Linked DNA regions of Homo sapiens: region 2 is linked to region 1. The links come from fine-mapping of genetic effects on gene expression. Tissue or cell type: gastroesophageal junction. Region 1 holds a variant in brackets; the other region holds the start of a gene. All regions are shown on one strand. Distances are from middle to middle.

Region 1 (5,383 bases):
GCTGCTCCCTCCCATTTGGCAACAGTTTCCCTATCCTTCATTACCCACTCTATTACTTCCAAGACTCTGCCCATTGCTCCTGAATTCCCTTTGCTACATGACTGGTAGTACCTGGTTATTGACACCCCACCCGCTCTTTTTAAAAAATTCAATCACTAACCTTCTGGAATATCCTCTCATTAATGTTCTCTGACCTCACTTCCAGATCTGGATTTGATGTTTTCCTTCTCTTGCTTGATCTAGAAGTAACCCTCAGGTTACCCCTGCTTTTTGTCTTGTTCTGGCCCATTTATTGGCCCAAGCAGAATACATATACGTGTGTGTGTGTGTGTGTGTATTTTTTTTTTTTTTTTGAGACAGGGTCTCACTCTGTCACCTAGGCTGGCATGCAGTGGCACAATCATAGCTCACTTCAGCATTGAACTCCTGGGCTCAAGCGATCCTCCCACGTCTGCCTCCCAAGTATAGAATAGTATTTTGATGAATCGTGCCTATCCTTACAAATGCAAGGATGGGGCCAGCTGTCTCTGTCTTGCAGGCAGTAGCCTTGGACAAGTGAACTCAATTCTGTGGACCAAGTACTAGAGCTCAGTAACCCATGGAAACAGCGCCCATTGGGCACACACCTCCTGACCTCTGGCCTCCCACTTTCATCAGCCGAATCACTCTGAGAGGTCTGGCAGCTCTTTCAGGTCCCCAGGGGATCTCATTCATTTGTTTGAAAATAGTGTCTGAGAGTTTGGTGATTAAGAAATCCCTAAGAGGAGGGTAAGCTAAGCCATGAAAACCATCAAGCTCAGGATGCTGGCAAAGGTTAATAAGAAAATGTTTAGCAGAAAGCTATAGCATTAGCCTTTCTAAGAGCAGCAAGAAACTATAGCCTTCATTATTTATAGATTGAAATGGCATCATCACCTAGGAAGTGTCATGAGAACTCAGGTCATCTGTCAGCATATTATTTTGTATTTTCTTTTTTTTTTTTCAGACACAGTCTCACTCTGTCACCCAGGCTGGAGTGCAGTGGTGCCATGTTGGCTCACTGCAACCTCCGCCTCCTGGGTTCAAGCGATTCTCATGCCTCAGATTCCAAAGTAGCTCGGATTACAGGCGTGTGCCACCATATCCAGCTAATTTTTTTGTATTTTTAGTACAGATGGGGATTTGCCATGATGGCCAGGATGGTCTTGAACTTCTGGCCTCAAGTGATCCTCCCGCCTCAGCCTCCCATAGTGCTGGTCTGGCCTGTCAACATATTATTCTGAATATACTACCCTCATAGTGCAGCCCCATCCTTCTGAATCATAGCAGCTACTAAGCTGGGCTGGCCTCCTTCTTAATCTGTAGACAGTTGTCATGATCAACAGGCAGCCAGTGGCTTTAATGTATGTCCCAGGTTTAGCAATCCACTCAAGTAGTTAAACTTTTCCATAGGAGACAATCCAACCTTGGCCTTTTTCTATCTATGTAGTTTCATAAAGCAAACCACAGGAAGGCTTCACTGATACACATTCAGTCTGTTGATTCATCTATACTGGATTCATCAATTCCATGAGGACTTGGAAAAGGAGGTTGGTATGGTTTGAACGTGTCTCCTAAAGTTCAAATGTTAGAAACTTAATCCCCCGTGCAGCAGTGTTGGGAGATGGGGCCTAATGGAAGGTACAGTCATGTGTCACTTAATATGGGGACACATTCTGAAAGATGCATTGTTAGGCTATTTTGTCATTGTATGAACATCATAGAGTGGCCTTACACAAAGCTGGATGGTCTAGCCTACTACATACCTAGGCTATACGGTATAATCTAGGGGTCTCTGACTCCCAGTGCTGATCCACAGCCTGTTAGGAACTGAGCCACACAACAGGAGGTGAGTGGCAGGCAAGATTATAGATAGATTATGGGCATTGCAATGACCAATTGCAATCATTAGTAATTATCCTGATTAGAATGCCAACTATTAGATAGTACATTCAAATCACTTACAACAGATTCTTCACAGATTTATAACATAGGAGATGGTTCAGGAAACTTGATTCTCCATAGTCTAAGAGTTCAGTACTAACAGGTGAAGGGATAGTGATTATATTTTATGTGAGCTTTTTCCAAATGTCTAAATGCATCTATTTCCGAAACATTTCAAAGGAAATTATAGAGTAAAATGGCCGTGACTACTTTAGCATTTTCTTCCTGATAATGGCTGATTCGGATGTTAGCAAAGCCATCTCATGGGGAAGCAGTCTGAACCCCTCTCCTGGAGGCAGGAGTTCTGGCCCTGTCCCAGTTCTAGCACAGGCCAACTGTGGGACCCAAGCAATTCCATCTGGGCCCCAAGTTTCCTAGTACGCCATAACAGGATGTGGATAAAATATTCCTTTTAGAGTATTTAATTTTAAAACTGAAGGCATTATGATTGTATAAGTGTTCTATTAATTTTTCAACACATTAAGCAGAAAAAGTAAGGCATCCATCTCCCAATCTGCCTCTATTCATCCAACAAGAATTTTATAGAAAGCAATGGAAGAAAATCTGCTGAGTGCTCAAGGTTCTTTATAAACACCCGGCATTTCCTATTATATTCCTTCCATTTGTTTTCTATTGTATAAAAAGAACAAAGTGATATTTTTGTGGCTCATCAAAAAACTGAGAGTTGACAATAGTTCTCTCCTACTAAGAAAACACTGTTAACTTCTCTGACTCTTTCTTTTCTGAATCGTAGGTTTAATTTCTTAGCCTTTATTTGGCAGCTCATAACAGTCAGATACTTATTAATCTGTTCTGGCTCGTTTCCAGGGACAATCATAACAACAGCTAGAGATGCCAGATTATTTCTAAGGAAGTATTTTTGTCTTACTTGGTTCTTGCTGCACCTTTTTCTTCAGAAACACCTTTTAAGTTACAACAAGTGAGATAATTATGTACGTATGTTTTCCTTGCAGGGAATTTGTGCAGTTCATAAGATTCAAGTGATACTTTGGTTTAGTTTCATGGCCAATCTGGATATGTTACATCGAGTGCCTTA[A/G]GTGGATTCATTAGCCTGAGGACATGTGAGGTGATGTTTTCTAGCATTCTCAATTTACTAAAGGAATGCTTTCCACAACTTTGCTTCTAAATTGTTTGTTTAGAGGTTAGATGACATTTCCCTGTAGAAAGAACATTATGTTAACTCCTAATGGATGACACTCATGGTAATGACCTGAATTCAAGGGAACATGTTGTTTAGGATTGAAGAGAAGAGCAAAGGTAATTTCCTCCCTATTTCTTAAATATGCAGCTGACCCTAAGTACATTTTATTTTTATACTTTTTTCTGTTTATATAGTTATTTACATAACTATATAATAAACTACATTTATGAACTATATATGGACTTTGTTTAGATCTTGATTCAAATGAACCGACTTTGAAAGAATATTATAGGGAAATTTAAACACTAATTGGATAGTAAAGCTTTATTGTTAACTTTTTCAGGTGTAATAATCATACTGTGGTTTTTCTTAAGAATAAGGAAGGGTCACATTTTAGAGATATTCACAGATTAAATGATATTTAATCTTGGATTGCTTTAAAATAATCTGAGTTAGAGAGAATGGAGAATACATGGACGAAACAGAACAGCCATGTGTTCAGAATTGTTGAAACTGGTTGATTGGGAGTTCAATATATTCTATTTTTTATAGGTTTGAAAATTTATATGAAAACAAGTGTGCAAGAGACTACTGGGTAGATAAGGAAGAAGGAAGTCAGATACAGGAATTTCCATTCCCCAATTCCTAATGAAAAGATCAAAAACTGCAAAAAATCATTGTGGCCCCAGTGACCCATCCCCTCTTCTGGCATTTTCTTCATCCCACATTGAATCAAGGTTGGTCTGTGTGATGAATATTACATGACAGAAGTGATGGTATGTCACCTCTGAGATTAGGTTATAAAAGACAGTTAGTATAAGACTAACAATCTCACCAACTTTGTGTTTTGGTAGTTTCTTCTTCACTGCACTCCAGGTACAATGGCCTTGCTATCTTCTGGAAAAAAAAAAAAAAAGCCTATTCCTCCCTTTGAGCCTTTGAAATTGCTTGTCCTTCTATCCAGAATGTTCTTACCCAGGTCTCTGTGGATAGAGATGCTGCTCCTTTACATCATTCATGTCTCTGTTCAAATGACATCTTGCCAGAGAGGAACACCTTGTCTAAAATAAATCCCATTCCCATGCCATCATTCCCATCTCCTCACTCTGCTCTATTTGGTTCATTTACTTTTCATTGATTGAAATTATGTTATTTATTGTTTGACTAAATGAATAAATGATAGGTCTGGATAGAGCTTCCTAAGCAGGAATAAGTATAGACATGGGAACCATGCAAACATACTTCATACTTGAGGTTTGTATGTGTGTATATGTATGTGTGTGTGAGTGAGAGAGAGACGGAGCGAAACAGAGGAATGCTAGTATGACATGAGAAAACCTGACATATTTAGGAATAAATGTAGTAAAATGACTGCAAGACTTGTACTTGGAAAACTATGAAACACTGCTGAGAGATGTTGCAAACCTCAATAAATTGAGAGATATATCATGTTCATTGATTGAAATACTCAATATTGTTGTGGCAGATTGCATTTTCCAAAGATGGACACCATAATATATTCCCTCCCATATGCTTTTCTTACAATGTAACATTAACACTCTTCCCATTGAATGGTCTACGGTCATTCCCCTTGAACCTGGGGGGACATTTACACAACTGGGTTGACCACTAGAGTATGGCAGAAGTGATGCTTCGTGACTTCTAAGGTAGGTCATAAAATATCCATACACTTCTGACTGGTTTTCTTGGGATGATTCACACTCTTGGAATGGATGTAAGAAAGCCACATTGCCATGGAGAGGCAGAGTTTTATATGGAGAGGAGCAGAGACCCCTGGCCTTCATACTAGCTGAGCTCCCATTTAGACATCCAGCACCAATTGCCAGCTATGTAAGTGAACCATCTTGGGAGATGATCCACCAACCCCCAGCTGACACCATGTGGAGCAGACAAACACGTACTGTTAAGACAGGACCAAATTACAGATTTGTGAGCTGAACCAATGATTATTGGTTTAAGTCAATAGGTTTTGGGTGGTTTGCTATGCTGCAATAGGTAACTGTTACAATTGTTAAGATTCATTCTCCCCAAATTGATCTATAGCTTCAATGCAATCCCAATTAAACTCCCAAAAGTTTTTTTGGGAGAGAGTCTTGCATTGTTGCCCATGCTGCAGTGCAGTGGCGCGATCTCAGCTCACTGCAACCTCCACCTCCTAGGTTCAAGGGATTCTCCTGCCGCAGTCTCCCGAGTAGCTGGGATTACAGGCATGCACCACCACACCTGGCTAAATTTTTT
Region 2 (5,383 bases), 30 kb after region 1:
AGTGAAAAGGAACTTTCTCTTATCAAAAGTAATCACTATTACCTATATACCTTGTGACACAAAATTTTCTAAGTTTATCTTCCCACACTGAAACAAATGGGAATTAGGAGAAAGAGTTGCATACAAGCAAGAATTGCCCTTTGACAGGAGGGAGGAAACAACAAAAAAAATTTAAACCAGGCAGAAAAATCTCAAAAAGCATGTTCACGGTAATCTCCGCAAGAGGCAAGCCACCTTAGGACCATGAGGGCCTCTGAAGGTGGCTGTTCTGTGACAGAGAACAGTCATTCAAGTTTTTATCAAAAAAGAAGGCCTAAATTCTTTGATTACACTCTTACAAAGTTAATGAAAAATGATTCCTTAAAAAAAAAAAAAAACCAAGGGACTAAAATGAGATAAGGCTCAGGTATCAAAAAACAATTTTAAAAACATAAACCAAGATTGTCTTATTGTAAGTGCTATGAATATGAATACTGGAATAACATTTGTTTGGGGGAATCAAGATACCTTGAGATAATACTTCTACTCCATTAAATACTAAATATGTGTGTGTGTGTGTGTGTGTGTGTGTGTATATATATATATATTTTTTTTTTTTTTGAGACAGAGTCTCACTCTGTTGCCCAGGCTGGAGTGCAGTGGCGTAATCTTGGCTCACTGCAACCTCTGCCTCCCGGGTTCAAGCAATTCCCTGCCTCAGCCTCCTGAGTAGCTGGGATTACAGGTGCCTGCCACCATGCCCAGCTAATTTTTTTGTATTTTTAGTAGAGATGGGGTTTCACCATCTTGGACAGGTTGGTCTTGAACTCCTGACCTCATGATCCATCCGTCTCGGCCTCCCAAAGTGCTGGGATTACAGGTGTGAGCCACCGCGCCAGGATTAAATACTAAATTTTTTTTAAATATTCATAACACAGTTTGATGTGACATCTCATCTTCCAGTCATACCGAATAAGGTAGCCAATTAGAGGTTAAATAAATTGCTTAAAAGTGTTCTCAAAACTTGCAGTTTCTTCAATCTTATGAAATTGGCAACTAGGAAGATTTATATATACACTTCATCATTTGTATATAAGCTGTTTCTTAAATGACACATCAACAAGGCAAGAATTCATACAGTAATTGAGTGATGCAACATTTGGAAGACAAAGCTTAGATAAGTCTGGGTTCTACTCCCAAAGCCTCTAGGCTAGGCATGGAGCAGCCCAATTATCTAGCAAAACTCTCTAGAGACAAGATGCTGATTCTGTGATTACAAAGAAATTAGAGTAGAAGGAGGGACCACTTCTCTAACCTGGGAGTTACCAGAAAATCCAATATATCAAAAAGTAATAGACAAATGGCTCAAGCAATGCCTAATGGTCTCTAATTACAGCAACACTCCTTCCTAATATAAAGATATTAGGCCAAGAGAAAGAAACATACTGACTCATAACAACCAGAAAATCCTGCTGAAATCAAAAGTGCAGTTCACCTGAGGCACCTTCATCAGTTTAATGCAGTATTTCCCTAGGTCTGGAGAAGTAAATTACAAAGCTATTTTCTTAAGAGACCCCCGCATTATTGACACTGAAGAAACAGGGAAGAACAGGGAAACGGGCAACATCCTAAAAACCACAGCAATTCACAATAACTGCCTTTCACATAAGGGTTTAGAGTCTATCATAGTTCAAAAGGAGATTACAAAGTATCCCAGTTGCTTAAATGACAAGGTTTTATATGGGAAATGAAATGTTTTCAGACATTGAAAATAAACAAGAAACAGTAAGACTGTGACCCTGAAAAAAAACTCGATTAAGTTTTCCTTAGAGAAGAAAAAATACAAAGAAAACCACTGCTCCCAAAGTTACCTGCTTCCTGCCTGACTGCCCTTCTACAGAGCGGCAGGTCAAGAAATCAATGTAATTAGTTAAGCAGTAGCTGAAAACTTTGCTTCTCATCACACTGACAACAAAACTACCTAACAGGTGGAACAAATGCAACATTCCTTTTTTTAAAAGAAAATACATGAATAAGCCAGTAGTTTTTCATTAAGTTGTACCAGTATTTTATCTTCTTAAAAAAAAAAAAGGAAAAAAAGAAAAATTTTGAAATTTGAAAAAGCCTCAGGGTGCAACTGCGGAGAGGGAAGAGAGCCAGGAGCACTTTGGGGTCGCCTACAGGATCAACTCTAGGGTCCAGACACCGCAGATGAAAATGCACCCGTTTCGGGAGCCTGTAAAGCCTCGGGCGCGGGCGGCCGGGGTGGACGTGGGGTCGAGGTTTCGGGCAGACCCGTGCAGCGCCCGCAGACCGCACTTGTGCCTTTCGGTGGGAAATGACTGGTTTTCCATAGCTGGCATCTCTAGCAGCCTCAGCCTTCTCAATCCCACGCTCTGCCTGCCTCTCTCTCGGATGCAAACTCCTGCAAAACGTGTGTGGCCGTCCAAGTCGCGACGGGACTCCTCACTGACCGCCAACCACTTCATATTTTGTCCGGGGGGCGATGGGTGGGAGAGAGGCTGCCGAAATCGGCAGAAAGTGGGGGCTGCGGGGCGAAGCCGGGGTCGCAACCGTCCGTTGCCCGAGGGCGCCGCGCCCACCTCCGGGCCAAGCGCAGGGCCGGGGCGGGGGTCGCTTCCCCGGCGCAGGGACCCCACGCGCGCGCGCGAGCCCGGAGGGGAAGTGCGGGGGCCGCGTGGGACCCCCGGCCCATCTTCCCCCGCCGGCCCCAGCCCTCCCGCGTCCTGCAACCCAGGCCCACCTTTGATGCCTGCCATGGCGGTGACGTCGCTCCTGGCTCCACGACCCGAGGCGGCGGCGGCAGCAGCGGCAGCCGGGAGACCCAAGACGCGCTACGGCGGCCAGACAACACCCGGAAGTGCGCGACGCAGCACTTCCGCCGGCGACTCGGGCTCGCGCGGGGGCGCGGGGGACGCGCCGGGCTGGGCTGTGGGGTCGACCCCCTGCCTCTCTTCTCCGCGGGTGTGCAGATCGCCGCCGGCCGAGGCTTGCCGCCGCCGCCCCGACTGGGGGAATGAGCAGGCGCCAGGTCTTGAATTCCTGTCAGGGCCGGTCTGGGGGCTCCCTGCTGAAGCCCCTGTCCCTGATCCCGCAACCTCCCGCGTGCGTTGGGAAGGGGTCGCGGGTAGCGGCCGTCCTTTGGATGCACGTGTGATGGCTTTTGGCTTAATTTCACATTGTTTTGTTTGTTTTTTGAGACAGGGTCTCTTTCGCCCAGGCTGGAGTGTGATCACGGCTACTGCAGCCTCGATCTCCAGGGCTCAAGTGATTCTCTCACGTCGGCCTCGCAGTAACTGGGACCACAGACATGAGCCACCATGCCTGGCTTTTTTTTGTTTTGTTTTGTTTTGTTTTTTGTAGAGACAGGGCGGGGTGTGAGACTCTCATCTTGTTGCCCAAGCTGGTCTCCTGAGCTCAAGGATCTGCCCTCCTCGGCCTCCCAAAGCGCTGGGATTACAGCTTGATACCCTACCTTGTTTTAACCTGATTGACTCGCTCTTAGCTGAGAGAGCGGGACAGACTCCATTTTGGTTTCTTCGCTTGCAGCACCTTGTCCCCCTCCCTTAAGGACATAACTGGTGCAGACTGACACCAAGCACATCCAGGAATGTGCTTACTGATAAGATACTGAGGCAAGCTGTACCAGCAGCTCCTGGGAACGCGCTCGGTTGATGGTACCCAAAGCCCCTGCGTTTATCTCTTTGTGATAATTTAAGCCCCATGCACCTGGAACTGTTTATTTTCCTGTAACTGTTTCTATAACCATTTATCTTTTAACTCTTTGCCTGTTCTGCTTCTGTAAAAATTGCTTCAGCTAGACTACCCCTTCCCTATTTAGACCAAGGTATAAAAAGAAATCTAGCCCCTTCTTCAGGGCCGAGAGAATTTTGAGCTGTAGTCGTCTCTCGGTCGCCGGCAATAAAGGACTCCTGAATTAGTCTCAAAGTGTGGTGTTTCTCTATAACTCGCTCGGTTACGACAACAGGTGTGAGCCACTGCGCACATTATTTTACTGCGCCTTTTCCTCTCTCCCTCCATCCCTCCATCCCCAGTCCTATAATTAAGGTTAGTTGGGTGGTCTGCACTTGGCTCCTTGGTTTCCTATACAGGACTAGGGTTCTGGTGAGGACCCACCTCCAGAGATAGGAGCAGCAGGGCTCAGTAAAGGGTGGATTTAATAGAAATCCAGTCCCTTGGGTGGCTGTCTTTTTGGTAGTAACAAGGCAAGGAAAAAAAAGTGAAAGCCCAGGTTCAACACCTTTATTTACACATCCTACAATTATTTATAGAACATTTACTATGTGTTAGGCACAGGGTTAGACGCTGAGATGTGCAAAACCAGGTACTGTTTGCAGACTGGTGAGGAAGACAGACACACAAAAAATGTAAAATTGCAATAATGATAATTGCTAGTAAAGGGGATCAGAATATGTCACTCTAAAATATGCCACTTTGAAGTCTGGTGTGGTGACTCAGGCATGTGATCCCAGCACATTGGGAGGCTAAGACAGGAGGATCGCTTTGGCCCAGGAGTTGAAGACCAGCCCTGGCAACATAGTGAGACTCCATCTCTACAAAAACGAAAAAAAAATTAGCCAGGCTTGGTGTGTGCCTGTAGTTCCAGCTACTTGGGAGGCTGAAGTAGGAGGATTGCTTGAGCCTAGGAGGTCGAGGCTGCAGTGAGCTCTGATTGTGCCACTGCCTGGGCAACAAAGCAAGACTCTGTCTCCAAACAAACAAATAAATGTCAGGCCTCTGAGCCCAAGCTAAGCCATCATATCCCCTGTGACCTGCACGTACACATCCAGATGGCCGGTTCCTGCCTTAACTGATGACATTACCTTGTGAAATTCCTTCTCCTGGCTCATGCTGGCTCAAAAGCTTCCTCACTGAGCACCTGGTGACCCCAGCCCCTGCCTGCCAGAGAACAACCCCCTTTGACTGTAATTTTACTTTACCTACCCAAATCCTATAAAATGGCCCCACCCCTATCTCCCTTCGCTGACTCTCTTTTCGGACTCAGCCCACCTGCACCCAGGGGAAATAACCAGCCTTGTTGCTCACACAAAGCCTGTTTGATGGTCTCTTCACACGGACACGAGTGAAAATAAGGCTAAGGATTGTTTTGAGCTGAAAGCAAATAAGAAGCAACAGGCATAGGAGGAGCTCTCTGCTCTCTCCTTTTCTACCCAAAGGCCGTGCTTAAGTTCCCTTTGTAAAGATAACATAAAGTTCCACTTTTTGTTTTGTTTTGTTTTTCTTTTGAAACGGAGTCTCGCTCTGTGGCCAGGCTGGAGTGCAGTGGTATGATCTCGGCTGACTGCAACTTCCGCTTCCTGGGTTCAAGCGATTCTCTTGCCTCAGCCTCCCAAGTAGCTGA

Alleles and levels. Positions count from the first base shown, and alleles are read on the strand shown. Sizes are in standard deviations (SD) of each study's normalised expression.
As copies of A replace G in region 1, the expression in gastroesophageal junction of the gene that starts at base 2,864 in region 2 goes up (moderate effect, 0.50 SD a copy in GTEx).

The links. PIP is the estimated chance that this variant, and not a neighbour inherited with it, causes the effect.
Region 2: it holds the start of LEPROTL1, and the variant in region 1 is fine-mapped to the expression of LEPROTL1 in gastroesophageal junction (GTEx, PIP 0.96).

The regions. Positions count from the first base shown.
Region 1 is chr8:30,122,639-30,128,021 of GRCh38, reverse strand. It overlaps a transcript of LEPROTL1 not described here. Among named protein-coding and RNA genes, the nearest start is that of MBOAT4, 19 kb to the left of the region's middle. The variant A/G (reference allele first, on the strand shown) is at 3,020.
Region 2 is chr8:30,092,889-30,098,271 of GRCh38, reverse strand. It overlaps LEPROTL1 (leptin receptor overlapping transcript like 1), which reads right to left and starts at 2,864. Exons shown (of 4, transcript NM_015344.3): 1 at 2,744-2,864. The coding sequence starts at 2,759. RefSeq lists a silencer at 2,557-3,016 and an enhancer at 5,132-5,301.